2 linked regions of the Homo sapiens genome follow. The protein of the gene in region 1 interacts with the protein of each later gene in a pairwise test. Each region holds a gene or a part of one and is shown in the gene's direction. Other genes may lie near its edges.

Region 1 (7,023 bases):
TTTTAAGATTGGCTAGTTTGAATAATTTCAATGGACTCTGGGGCATAGGTTCTATCTCTGGTTGTCTGACATGTGGCCCTGGGATGATTGGGATAGGGAAATAATGGCCCTGGCTGTGAGAGCCTTGTAGAGGAGTTGGTTGGTAGTGTGAGTCTGGATTGATTGGAATGCGTATGAAAGGTGGACTCAGACAAGTTGTTTGCCATCACTAGGAATTAGCTATCCCTGGGAGAGGCAGTTCTTCCATGGTCAGCAAGGCCCAAGAGGTCAAAGCATCAAAAATACAGAATAAAAAGACATGATTACTAAACACCCTTATCACAATATAGGACATTTCCATCTCCCCCGAAAAGTTTCTTTGTGTCCCTTTTCAGTCAATTTCCACCATCCTCTAGACAACGACTGTTTTTATTTTTTTCCACTTGAACTTTGTTTTGTTCCAGAACTTTATATAAAAGAAGACTACATTGTGTGACTATTGTGTTCAGCTTCTTTTGCACAGCATGATGTCATACATACATGTTGCCTGTCTCAGTAATTTGTTCCTTTTTATTCCTGAGCGGTATTCCATTGTATGAATGTACCACAATTTGTTTATTTATTCTCTTGCTGATGGACGTAAACTTGTTTCAGTTTTTGTTATTGCACATAAAGCTACGATGAACATTCATCCTTTTGTTGACATATATTTTCATTTCCCTTGAGTAAATATTAGGAGTGGAATTGATAGGTCAAAAGGTTGCCTGTTTAAGAAACTGCCAGTTTTCTGAAGTAGTTGTAAGATTTTACTTTCCCAACAAGCAATTTGTGAGCATTTTGATTACTCAACATCTTCACCGACATTTAGTGTTGTTAGTCTTTTTACTTTTATGTTGTGCTTTAAAAAAAAAACTTCACAAAACCCTAAATTTAGGGTTTAAACTGATAGAAACACTTCTGTCAGTTTCTTTGACACTTGTATATTTTTCATCTATTTTATCATTTTCTAGAAAATTTGTCAGTTGCCTGAAAATGCTGCTCTGTTTTGGCTGGTGCCCACAAGCCAAATAGATTTACTAATCTCTCTTTCTTACACACACACACACACACACACACACACACACACACACACATCCCCTTCATAATCCAACAGGTATTTATCATTTTTTTTCTCTAAAGTATTATGCTAAATTTTGTGGAGGCATTTTTTAGAAATACAGTAAACACATTAACTGTACTCAGAATGAGAAAGGGAAATACAATCCAATAAGTAAAACACAAAGTAGAATGTGATACATGCTCCAAAAGAGGTAAGAAGGAAGACTCAGGTCTTGGAGCCTTGAAGGATATGCATGATTTTTACAGGTGGTGATGATAAAGAAGGGCCTCACTGATGAAAAGAATAGTGTGTTTTTGTGCCAGACTGTTAGTCTCATTCAGTCACACTTCAGTAATAAATTAGGCTCATTTAGATGGAACTGACTTGAAATTTCTCTCTTATCTTCCACAGTCTGTTTCCCTAGGCATTGTGGGCATCTTTGAGATTTCGAATGGTACCATCTCTTTGAATCGTCATAAGGACTATTCTGGGACTTTGCTTCATCAATTATTTTTCCTTTTTCTTGATTCTTCTATTTCATCTTCACTGAATTATTTCATTCCACCTATGTATGTATTCAAGTCTTCCTCCCTCCCTCCAACACTGTAAGAGAAAAAAGAATTATTTTCTCAATCCTATTATCTCTGTTAAGCTTTCATCCTGTTTTTCTCTCCTTTAACTTCAGTAGTATTCACTTAATGCTTCCACCTCTTAACATCGCCAGTTGTTCAACCTCTTGCAATCTGAATTTGATAAGGAAAATGTGGTTCATATACACAATGGAGTACTGTTCATCCATGAAAAAGATGAGATCCAGTCATTCGCAACAGCATGGAGGGAACTGGAGATCATTAAGTAAAATAAGCCAGGCACAGAAAGACAAACATTGCATGTTCTCACTTATTTGTGAGATCTAAAAAGCCCTCAACCACTTTTCTGGAAAAAAAAAAAAAAATTTTAAGGAGAATCCTAGCATCTCCTGTTCAATAAGTCTAATACTTTTTACTTTAAGGTCAGATTTTTTTTGGCCTATCTATAGGCACTGTTAGCCATATCTTTCTTCTTGATGGTCTCTCCTTCCTAGGTTTCACTTGATTCTCCTGCATCTGCCTTCCCTGACTCTTCTTCCATCCCTTACTGACAGTGTTTACCAAGGATTTCCCTTGGCCTGCTTCTTTCTTTGACGCTCATTTAAACCTTTCCCTTCAGTTGCAGACCTCGTCTGCTTCTCCCAGCTATTCCATTCTTCAGTTGCTTGTTAAACACGGCCCACCATCACCTCAAATATGATGTTAAAATGTCCCCATTTTTTATCAAACTTAAGTTTCTTCCTGTGGATCTGTTGCTCAGTACTCTCATCTTTCCGATCACCTAGAGGTAAAACCTCAACATTTCTTTGAATTTTTTTCCCCCTTTTGTTTGCCACATCTAATTAGTTGCCAAGTCTAATAATTTTAACCTCCATGACATCTTACTTCTTTTTCCCCATTTCTTTTTTTTTTTTAATTTTAGCTTTATTCTTTAATGAACTCCCAAGCACTCAGATTCCCATTTCTACTGTGACTATTCTGATTCAGGCCCTGATTTCAGTCAGTCTTTTGCAGTGACTCTCCCACAAACTTCCTAATGTAGAACTGTAGAAAGAGCATGGGCTCTGCAGTCAGATAGACCTAAGTGCTAATTGTGAAGATGGCCCTTCTGGCTGTCTGACTTATAGAAAATAATTTAATCTTAATTGACAGATGAGAAAGTTTAGGCACAGAAAAGTTAGTCATTCCAGTTCAGTCACAGAGAAGTTAGTCATTTCTACCTCATGAAGTATGCCATTCTGAAGGGTAAATGAGACAATGGGTGCTTAGTGAGAAGGTACTCAGAAAAATATTATTTCTCCCTCCCTTACTTTTGATCTCTTTACAACCCATTAATAGATTAATCTTCTTTAAGTATAACCTTCATCATATGAGAATCTTGTTCTTCAGTGGTTCCCCATTGTCTAATTTTCCATAATTCTTAGCCTAGAATTGTATACTATCAATTTGTGTCCACCTCCCTTTCTGACCTTATTTCTCCCCACTTGTCACAAACATCGCTTTGAGCCAAACCAAACCACTAGCAATGCCCTATAGCAGAATGGCTGAGAACATGAATTCCAGAATCATCTAAATCCCAGTTCACGTACTTACTTTGTGCCCATGAGCAAATTATTTAATGTCCCTAAACCTTTCCTATTCTGGGAGGGGTGGGGAGGGGGCGGGGTGGGGCAGAAAACCAGGATAATTATAGTGCCTACTGCATTGGGTTGTTGGAAGGATACAGTGAGACCAAGTATATAAAGCACTTGGTGCCTGGCGTGTTGAGAGCAGTCACTGTTGGTAGAAGTAGTAGTTGTTGATGCTGTTGTTACTCGTTTCTCCCATTTCCATCTCCATCACATTCACATTCTTTTCTCTGCGTGGAATGCATTTCTTCCCCTTTGTACCTGACTACATTTTATCTATCTTCAAAGCTCTTTCCTGGTTCTAGACCACCCTCCCCCTACTTTATCTTTCCACTTCATCATTCCTTGCCTCTTTTAGCTTAGAATGCTTATTACTTTCATATACTTATCTGTTTTATCTCTTTTATAAAAGACTAGAAGTGCCTTGAGGGCAGAATATGTAATTCAATTTTTGTATCTTCGAAAGCATAGCATCTTACACAGAACCATGCCAGAAAGTATTTACTGAATAAATATATTAATTTACTGTAACCAATAGCTCTTTGGTTCCTTTGGTTCTAAGGGGTTTATTCTTACTTCTTTAGGAACTTTTGCAGAGTCTCCATAAACCATTGGTACATTTTCAGAAACATTTAATTTTGTTATCAACATGCCATCCTTGGGTTCAAGAAGACTAAAGAAAAGACTTTATAGGAGAAGGCAATAATAACAAAAGCAAAACAAAAACTGACCAGATGACACTGCTTTGGATTCAGCAAAATTATTGTTTTTCTACACTGCCTCTTATTTGTTATTGTTACAAACATTCTACACCAAATATTATAGTACCTAGAATGGTGCCAAATTAAGCATTTTTGGATAATAGTGGATCTAAAATCTGTTTTACTGAAGTAAAAAAAATAACAAATAGTTAATACATTAAAATGTGATTAAATATCTAGTTCAGTTTGTTAAAATGAGAAATTATTAAGAAGTGTCACCTTCTTATGTTGTGGGCAGATGGAGTATTCTCTTGATAACTTCTCAAGGAACAAGCCACAGAACCTGGGAAGTGGGTGGGGGCGGAAGTGGGGGAATCTCTAGAATTTCTTCCCCACAGTGATTTGGCACAACGCCAGCTGTCCTTCAGCAAAGGTGTACTGTGTTCTTGTTAAAGGAGACTTATGCTTTTTAAAGGCTTTTATGCCTTTAAATGTATAGACGAATTAGATAGATTTTTAAATCGTGAATTTTTTTTTCTTTACTGATATAACACTTGGAAGCAATATTGAATAGTGACATTTAATTTTCTGTTGTCATATTACAATATCAAGGAAATTGATTGAGAGCAGGCAGCTTGGGCACCAGAGAAGTTTAAGAAAATGTTATATAAGCACTTTCTGCTGAACTTGGGGAATAAATACTTTTTTGTGATATGTAGATTCTTGTGTTTTTATAACTGTTTAGGGAAGATGTTCTGCTATAATGGCTGAATATAAGTTGCAGAGATTTAAACCCGCCCTTATATTAATGTTCCACCTCATTAACTTAATTGTTAGGGCGTTTACACTTCAGTGATTTAAATAAAATACTCTAAATGTGGTTCTGTTGTCTTTCCCTCTGTCTCCTGTTTGAGGTCTAGATGATTATGTATTTAGTTATGTGTTTTCATGTAGACCCTGTTGTTAATTCTATTAAGCGTAAGATGATGATGAAGGGAAGCTATTGTATAACTTTTGTGCTGCTGCAGCCCTGGAAGATAAGGGAATGTATTTATGAAACTAAAATGGTCACTTATTCAGCTGGTGTTTTGTCATTTTTACCTTCCAGTGTTATTCAGAGGACCAGGAACTTCATAGCTATAAGACTCCATTCTGTTTTGGAGTTCAGATTGCTGATTATATATGAGCTTTCACATGTATCCAGTGATATTTATAGCCCTAGAACCCAGATAAGGCAAAGTTTTGCTTAAAAGTAAGCTATGTTTGTACTTTAAAATGTTTCCTAAGCATTTTCAGAAAAAGTAGGATTATGCAATGAATTTCCAAGCAAAGTCACCTTTACAAATACTTTCACCTACCTGCAAATAGTAGACATATTTATGCAGTAAGGTTTTTTCTAAATGATTTACTGCCGGTTGTGAGCATCCCTTAGCACTGTCTATCCCAAATGCAAGTTACATGTCTTTGTTAAAAACATAGAGAAAGGCCAGATGCAATGTCTCATGCCTGTAATACCAGCACTTTGGGAGGCCAAGGTCAGAGGATCACTTGAGGCCGGGAGTTCAAGACCAGCTTGGGCAACATAGTGAGACTCTGTCTCTATAAACAATTCAAGAAAAAATTAGCCAGGCATGGTGGCACGTGCCTGTAATCGTAGATAGTCGGGAATCTGAGGCACGAGGGTCGCTTGAGCCCTTGAGTTTGAGGCTTGTAGCGAGCTGTGATTGTGACCCTGTCTCAAAAAAAAAGGAAAAAGAGAAAAATAAGTTAATTTTTCAGGGAAATGAAGCTTTTATGTTGTCAAGCATTTTTCATTTTATAACAGTATTTAATTGTGAATATATGGTGTTAAATAATTCTATGAAGTATCTGCTTGACCCATTTAAGTTGAGCAGTGAATTTCTGTTTTACCTAAGTTCATCTTTGTGAGGTATTGGTGTTCATTTCTAACTATTTCTTTTATTTTCCAGCTCACCAGCGACTGGAACCAGCAACTCTGTCAGGGATTGTAGGATTTATCCTTAGTCTTTTATGTGGAGCTCTGAATTTAATTCGAGGCTTTCATGCTATAGAAAGTCTCCTGCAGGTACTGTGCTATTTTTGCAATTTCAGGTGACTGTGCCTCTTCATTCTACTGGTTACATAATTGATTTGAATTGGATTGGGTATTAGTATAATTTACAGTGCATACTCAAAATCTATGTTTTTTTATATCTGCTTTAGCCTCCTTCTAAAAACACTGGTTGGCTTCTTTGATTCCATTGGCACATGTTTATCATCTGCTCTTTAGGAGGCACTATTTATAGGCACCCTGGGGACCCCAAGATGTGTGTGACATAGGCCTTGCAGTCTCATAACTGAAAGTTGAACTGGGGAGGCAAGAAAGTAATTGCCAAATACACAGAGTTGGGAAGGGGGAGAGGTCAGTATAATCAGGATTGGAGAAGGAAGGTTTTGTGGAGGAGAGTTGAACTGGTCCTGGAAAGATCTGATCAGACAGAGAGCAGTGGAAGAATGAAGAGGGCACACGTGGGCTGTGTTTATTCCACTTCTGTGTATTCCCTACTTAGTTCATCTGCTTCTTTTTCTTTTTTTGTTAGTGGCTTCTTAAAACTTGAGCTTCCTAGAAAACCACAAATTTATTCAGATATTGCTAACTATTACATTTTCAAGTGGAGTTCCTTTCAGAAGCTATAGCTATCAGAATATACTAATTTTTTCTCTTATGCTTTTTGTAAACTTTTTGAAATTTTTTTTTAAGTTTAGCACATTTGAGACTGCACAGCTTTCCTTTCCCTTATTTCTATTCACTTTCTCTGAAGAACTCTTGACACTCTCACATTATGAATCAGTCCTCTTTTTTTGGTCAGCATTAAGTGCAGAATACCATTTGTAAAAATCCACTGAGCACACTTTATATTCTGTTTTTAAATTGCTGTTAGTTTGGGGAACCCTCAGAGGGTATCTTTCTGCATCTGTTTAGCCATGTAAAGCCAACAGCAGATGACATCACAGGTTCCAGCAGC
Region 2 (7,438 bases), on another chromosome or scaffold:
TTACCTTGGGACCTTTAAAAAATGTTTGTGTTGGGCTGAGTGCAGTGGCTCATGCCTGTAATCCTAGCACCTTGGGAGTTTGAGGCGCGTGGATTACTTGAGGCCAGGAGTTCAAGACCAGCCTGGTCAACATGGTGAAACCCTGTCTCTACTAAAAAAAATAGAAAAATTAACTGGGCATGGTGGTGTGCCCCTGTAATCCCACCTACTCAGGAGGCTGAGGCACAAGAATCGCCTGAACCTGGGAGGCAGAGGCTGCAGTGAGCCGAGATTGTGCCATGGCACTCCAGCCTGGGCAACAGAGTAAGACTGTCTCAAAAAAAAAAAAAAAAAAAAGTTCACCTTCATGTTGGGTTCATGACAAATATCCTGATTTAATGTCTTATAAACTTCCCAGAAGATTCCACTAGGTAGTTGAAAGTAGAACTGTTGTATTAGCATTTTCTATCTAGGCTATTTCCATGTTTACCAATAAATGACATGATAAATTCTTCCAGTTTTCTTAGGACCTCTAAAACAACAGTGCCTTCATTCAAATGCTAAGATTGGATTTCTAGTCCATTTTCCTCGTTTATTTGAAAACACAGCATGAGGTCAAAACAAGAATGAATCAAAGGTAGTTTCTGATTGTTGGTTTTATTTGATGGCTCATTATTTCAAGACCTCTTGGAACAACAATCCTTGTCCGTCTTAATCTTTTATTAATCTTACAATTATAGTAACTAATGCCATTTCAACGTGATTTCAACTTGTGACTTTTGCAACATTATAAACTGGTAAATTATGAATTAAACACGTTTAATGCACCCCAAAGTCAAAAACCTTAGGTGGTTAAGTGTTTTAAGAGCTTATACATGTGTTAAGATATATAAAGGTACTGCTTCATGAAGAATGTGATTTTAATATGTACACACATGGGCATGAGTGTGTATGGGGGGGTAAAACAGACAGTGCAAGCAATAATATTTAGTAAGTAGATAAGACCAGCAAGTCTTGAGAAATATATTGCTTTTTAGTCAAATGGGGCACTTGTAAATGAATAGCTAGACTATAGGTGAATTCACTCGAAGATTTCCTTTTCCTTTTGGAAATTTGCTACTTGAGTTTTGAACTTGATTATTCTTTAAGGTATTTCAGCACTGAAAGCTAGTCAGTCTCTCCTTGATCATGTCTCCTTGCCATTGGGAAATATTGCATGCAAGTGGAAAAAAGGTCTATGAATCTTCTATTTTTCCCTTTTTAATTTGTTTAAAAAATTTTTTAATTTATTTATTTTTATTTATCAGCCATAAAAAAGAATAAGATCCAGTCATTTGCAACAACATGAATGGAACTGGAGATCATTCTGTCAAGTGCAATAAGCCAGGCACAGAAAAACAAACATCACATGTTCTCACTTGTGGGATCTAAAAACCAAAACAATTGAACTCATGAAGACAGAAAGTAGAAGGATGGTTACCAGAGGCTGGGAAGGGTAGTGGGGGCCTGGGAGGGGAGGTGGGGATGGTTAATGGGTACAAAAAAATAGAATAAATAAGACCCACTATTTGATAGCAAAACAGGGTGACTGTAGTCAATAACTGTACATTTTTAAGATAAAGAGTGTAATTGGATTGTTTGCAATGCAATGGATAACTGCTTAAGGGGATGGATACCCCATTCTTCATGATGTGAGTATTATGCATTTCATGCCTGTATCAAAATGTCTCATGTACCTCATAAGTATATACACTAGGTACTTACAAAAATGGAAAAAATAGGGGGCCGGGCGTGGTGGCTCATGCCTGTAATCCCAGCACTTTGGGAGGCCGAGGCAGGTGGATCACGAGGTCAAGAGATCGAGACAATCCTGCCCAACGTGGTGAAACCCCATCTCTACTGAAAATACAAAAATTAGCTGGGCGTTGTGGTGTGTGCCTGTAGTCCCAGCTACTCGGGAGTCTGAGGCAGGAGAATTGCTTGAACCCGGAGGCGGAGCTTGCAGTGAGCTGAGATCGCGCCACTGCACTCCAGCCTGGTGACAGAGTGAGACTCTGTCTCAAATAAATACATAAAAAATAAAAATAATTTTTATGTATTTATTTTACTGTTCCCCCCTCAGCTTTAATGAGGTACAGTCAGATACATATGTTCTGCAGATCTAATGAACAGCATGATAACTGAAGTTAATACTGTACTATGTACTTGAAGTTTAAGAGAGGAGATCTTAAATGTTCTCACCACCACCACCAAAAAAAAAAAAAGATGATTATGTGATCTGATGTGATCAGTAGATTATCTGCTTTGTGTTAGTGACTTCACAATGCACACATGTGTCAAAACATGTTGTACATGGTAAGTATATTAAATTTTTATTTGTGAATCTTCCTTTGAAAGCAGTTTCTCACAATCATTCTCTAAGGAATTGAAGAAAGAGCTCAATCATTTTTATTATTTACTTTGAACTCATGTGAAGATCTTAGTTATTAAGACCTTTACATGCATTCTGTCATTTATACTTTATACCCCAAAGTGGGCACTATGATCTTCAACTTACAAATGGGAGAACCGAAGTCTTAGAGTTTAAGTAACTTCCTTTCATGGCTTTTTCTACAGCTCCAAATTCAAAAAGAGCATGTTGAAAGCATCCACTCTTTCCTTTCATTTCTTCAGATTTCTTTCTCTTCTTCGCTGAAGGCATTTTCTTGTCATCTCTTTCTTCTTCAGTATTCCATTTGCAATGGTTCTGGATAAAACGGGGAGGGAAGGATCTTATCTTTACCACCTTCCTTTTGGCTATTTCCTTCTGACTTCTGTCTCTGTCTCTGTCTTCTCTTTCATCAGTCCCTTCCTTCGCTCCTAAATGTAGACCCTGGAGAGCCGCTGCCCTAGGGCTCAGGTGCCAGCTCTCTTAGCAGAAGCACCTGTGCAGAAATTTTCTGGCAACTGGGCCCCTGCTCATTTCATATTCACAATCTCTGCCCACACACTATGTTTTGGTCTTGGTAACTGGCCCTCTTTCTCTTTCCTGTGATCACGTCCCCACTGACGCTCCTGTTTGTAGGACTAGGACCTCGCTTTCCTTGCTGTGAACATTCTTCTCTGTCTCACAGACTCCCCTGGGGCATGGATCAGGGGCTGTGCCCTCATTCTTTCTCTCAGGCCTGGCCCTGTGACCTTCATAAGGATTGTGGTTTGAATCTTCACGTTACCTACTTCCTTACTCCTTGTCACTTGGCTCTGATCTTTCTATTGCCTATTTTAGGACATTTATTTAGGATAAGCATATAATTTGGCCACTTTTGAAACTGAAAGGAGGCCGGGCGCGATGGCTCATGCCTGTAATCCCAGCACTTTGGGAGGCTGAGGCAGGTGAATCACCGGAGGTCAGGAGTTCGAGACCAGCATGACCAATACGGTGAAACCCTGTCTCTACTAAAAATACAAAAATTAGCTGGGAGTGGTGGTGCATGCCTGTAGTTGCAGCTATTCAGGAGGCTGGAACAGGAGAATTGCTTGAACCCGGGAGGCGGAGGTTGCAGTAAGCCAAGATTGCACCATTGCATTCCAGCCTGGATGACAGAGTGAGACGCCATCTCAATAAACAAACGAAACAAACAAACAAATACAAAAAACCTAAAAAAACCAAAAAACAAAAAAGAAACTGAAAGGAGGGGTTTTAACAATCATATTAGGATAACAGGCACACTTCGGGCTTCACCATTGTACAAAACAGAGATTTTGCACAGGGCTTTTCCAGTTAAATTTTAGGAAAGCTGGGTAACATTTCTATACCATAGTTTTCTCTACCATAACATCGGGTTAATAGTAGTACCTGGGTCCTGGGTTATTGTGAGGATGAGATGAATTAACATATGTAAAGCATTCAGAACAATGACCTGTATGTAGTAACCATTTAATACATTTAAACAATAATTAGCATTATTATTATATCTGTGATATTGGGCAAAGTAATTAACCTCTCTAAGCATGTAAGAATTGAATGTCATCACGCATATAAGGTACATAGCACCGTTGCTGGCACATCATGTAAAATAAGTGCCTGAGTGACCACCTCCCTCCTCCAGATGCTTCTCTTACAGTGTGACTTTGTCTCTTCTTGCTATGCACCTAACACTGTTCTACCTCCAACCCACAACCTCTTCCCACTTGTCTACCCATATTGTTGCTTGTGTTTCCTGTTCCAGCAATGTGTTAAGCAACATCTGAAAGCCAGAAGACAGTTATCCCTCACACCAGTTTCCTAATCATCACTAAGCCCTGGGGAAACACAATGGATCAGCGAGGCCCCAAATGCAGATGTGATTAGCACACTGGTCAGTCAGCCCGCAAAACACTTTCACCAAGTCCTCTAAAGTGTTGCATAAGGCAAAGATAACGTTAAGTCTGTGGAGGCTTCCGTTATCGGGAAAAGATGCTGTAGTGATCTTTTCTGAGTGTCTCCTACTTGCGACAAGGTGGACTTGGGAGGAAAGCCGTCTGCCAAAGCCTGAAGCCTCCAAGGTATAGATTCCCTCTCCATAGACATTCCCCTTTCTTTTATATCTTTCGTTAAAATGCCTCCCAGTGGACTACTGGGGATGTCTGCAAAGGTCTCTGTTTGGTTGCTATGTAGAGGTTTGGAACATTTAACTGTGAACATGGCTTCTCTTTAGGATGTGATGATTCCTTTGGAGCCATGATAAAAAGTGTTAGACATAATAATACAGCAATTTCTTTGGGAAAATGTGGGTATGGATACACACACATGCACACGCACCTCTTAGGTACATTAAATCCCACTGGCTGCACCTGAGTTTGTCTGCCAGCTCTGATGATGAGGGGTGGTCTCGATATGCCTGAAGTATGGGGTCTGCAAAGTGCATTTTAGCATAGCTCAGGGGACAGTGGAGTGTAATGATAGCTTGAGGTTCTGATTTTTAGCTTCTCAAATTGCTGGCTGTGTGGGCTTGGGAAAGCTACTTAACTTCTTTGTTCCTCAGCTTCTTCATCTGTTAGATGGAAAGGATCATAGCAGTAGTACCCATTCATCTGATGTTGTGAGAACTAAATTAGTAAACATGGATAAAGCCCTTAGAACAAATGCCTGCCACATACTAAGAGCTGGAGAGATGAACTTAACTGGCAGTTTCCTAGAAAATCTACATTTCTCTGATTTTGTGTGTGTGTGTGTGTGTGTGAGAGAGAGACAGAGTCTCGCTCTGTCACCCAGGCTGGAGTGCAATGGCACGATTTCGGCTCACTGCAAACTCCGCCTCATGGGTTCAAACAATTCTCCTGCCTCAGCCTCCTGAGTAGCTGGGATTACAGGCGCGTGCTGTCACAACCAGCTAATTTTATGTGTTTTTAGTAGAAACAGGGTTTCACCATGTTAGCAAGGATGATCTCAATCTCCTGACCTTGAGATCCTCCCGCCTCTGCCTCCCAAAGTGCTGGGATTACAGGCATGAGCCACTGCACCCGGACCATTTCTCTGATTTTTTTAAAAATAAATAACTGATTTAACCAAATTTTAGAAAACATAGTTTGTTTCACCTGGAGGCTGAAAATTCTCCCTGATTATTTTGATTATTTGAAACAAATCAAGTTAAATAATATGGTTAGATATTTGCTCTCTTCAGAAATGCTCTTGGAGTTTCTTGAGATGAGAGGCTCCAGTGCTTGCAGAGGTATTTTCCATCATCATTTATCAGGATGGCTACCTTGGGCTGGACCAAAAGTCTGGTTACTGATTGAACATGTGTGTTAACTGAGTGCTTGCCATCTGATGATTCTGAGCTAGGCACTGGAGTTGCAGTGATGAGTAGACAACGAGGTAACAGACAAGTATCCAGGCAATTAAAGCTCAGGCTGATTAAGTGGTATGAGAAGGAAAGTTGAGGAAATTTTGAGAGCAACCCAAAGGGGTGCATGCTTCTTCCAGAGTTGGCCAGGACTAAAAACAGCATCCTGGAAGTATGACATGTGGGCTGAAAATCAGTCTGGAAGGGCCGGGCGCATTGATTCACGCCTGTAATCCCAGCACTTTGGGAGGCTGAGGTGGGTGGATCACCTAGGTCAAGAGTTCGAGACCAGCCTGGCCAACATGGTAAAACCCCATCTCTACTAAAAGTACAAAAATTAGCTGGGTGTGGTGGTGCACGCCTGTAATCCCAGCTACTTGGGAGGCTGAGGCAGGATCATAGCTTGAGCCCAGGAGGCGGAGGTTGCAGTGAGCTGAGATCGGGCCTCTGCACTCCAGCCTGGGAGACAGAGCAAAGCTCCAACTCAAAAAAAAAAAAAAAAAAAAAAAAAAAAAAAAAAAATTCAGTCTGGAAGGAGAGCAGAAATTATCCAGGTGAAGCTTGAGGGGACTTGTCTTTCAGGAATGGGGGATAGCACAGAGGATTGAAGACATTTGAGGGTTTAGAACTTCTGAAGGAAGACAAATCAAGAAAATAAGGCTGGATGGAGTTTTGAGATAGGGATGGGTGAGGGGTGAGGCAGGAGACGTAGGCGAGAGATTATCTGGTCATAAAGCAGCAACATTCTCCGTATTGCATGCATCTTAGTTCATTAGATATTTAATCCAAAATACACACAAATTTCCCAGTGGATAAATTTGAAGTCTTGGCTTTTTGGCTATTCTTATTTATACTTTTTGCAGATAATTACGTTAGGAACTTATTCACATAGAGTTTGCTTTAAGCTTTATTGATCTTCCCTCGCTCTTGGGTTCTGTACAGTGTTGAACACGGGGGGTTAAGGGTTCCTTGTCATTTCACATTTATCCATACTTAAATACATACAGAATGTAATTTAATCTTGGCATGAAAATCAATATTGGTAGGAAACTTTGATGAAGAGTATTGGTAGCAAAATTTTATGACATTTATAATAAATGTTTTATCAGTATTGGTAGAGAATTTTATGAATTTTTATAGCAATTCCCAGTGTAATAATAAAACATGGCTTGACTCTCACTTTTAGTCAATGCTTAGTAAATTTGTCATCACACTTAAATGAGTCATACACACCCCCAGAGTAGAGTATCAGAAAGGTAAACATCCTGAAAGTGGCGTGTATTTAGCTTGACAAAAAATTAAGTTATTAGAAAAATGGATCTAGTATATAATTTGTAACAAAGAGTAGAAATTAAGATACTATACTTTCTTTTTCAATAAAAAGCTTTTATTTTAGGTTTACGGGTACATGTACAGGTTCGTTATATAGGTAAATTCGTGCCACAGGGGTGTGTTGTGCAGATTGTCACCCAGGTACTAAGCCTAGTACTCAATAGTTATTTTTCCCGATCTCCTCCCTCCTCTCTCTGATAATCTCCAGTTGTTTTGTTCCCCTCTATGTGTCCATTTGTTCTTAGCATTTAGCTCCCACTTATAAGTGAGAATATGTGGTATTTGGTTTTCTGTTCCTGTATTAGCTTTCTAAGGATAATGGC

Evidence for each region. Proteins that work in one complex are often made in the same cells at the same time.
Region 2: the proteins of SEC22A (region 1) and MS4A3 interact in binary tests that used the Homo sapiens proteins (3 or more experiments, as listed by UniProt).

What each region holds. Positions count from the first base shown.
Region 1 is NC_000003.12:123,239,932-123,246,954, forward strand, and holds part of SEC22A (vesicle-trafficking protein SEC22a), read left to right. Parts: intron 1-5,967; coding exon 5,968-6,083; intron 6,084-7,023. UniProt on the Homo sapiens protein: May be involved in vesicle transport between the ER and the Golgi complex.
Region 2 is NC_000011.10:60,052,238-60,059,675, forward strand, and holds the start of MS4A3 (membrane-spanning 4-domains subfamily A member 3), read left to right. Parts: upstream 1-4,427; 5' UTR 4,428-4,503; intron 4,504-7,438. UniProt on the Homo sapiens protein: Hematopoietic modulator for the G1-S cell cycle transition. Modulates the level of phosphorylation of cyclin-dependent kinase 2 (CDK2) through its direct binding to cyclin-dependent kinase inhibitor 3 (CDKN3/KAP).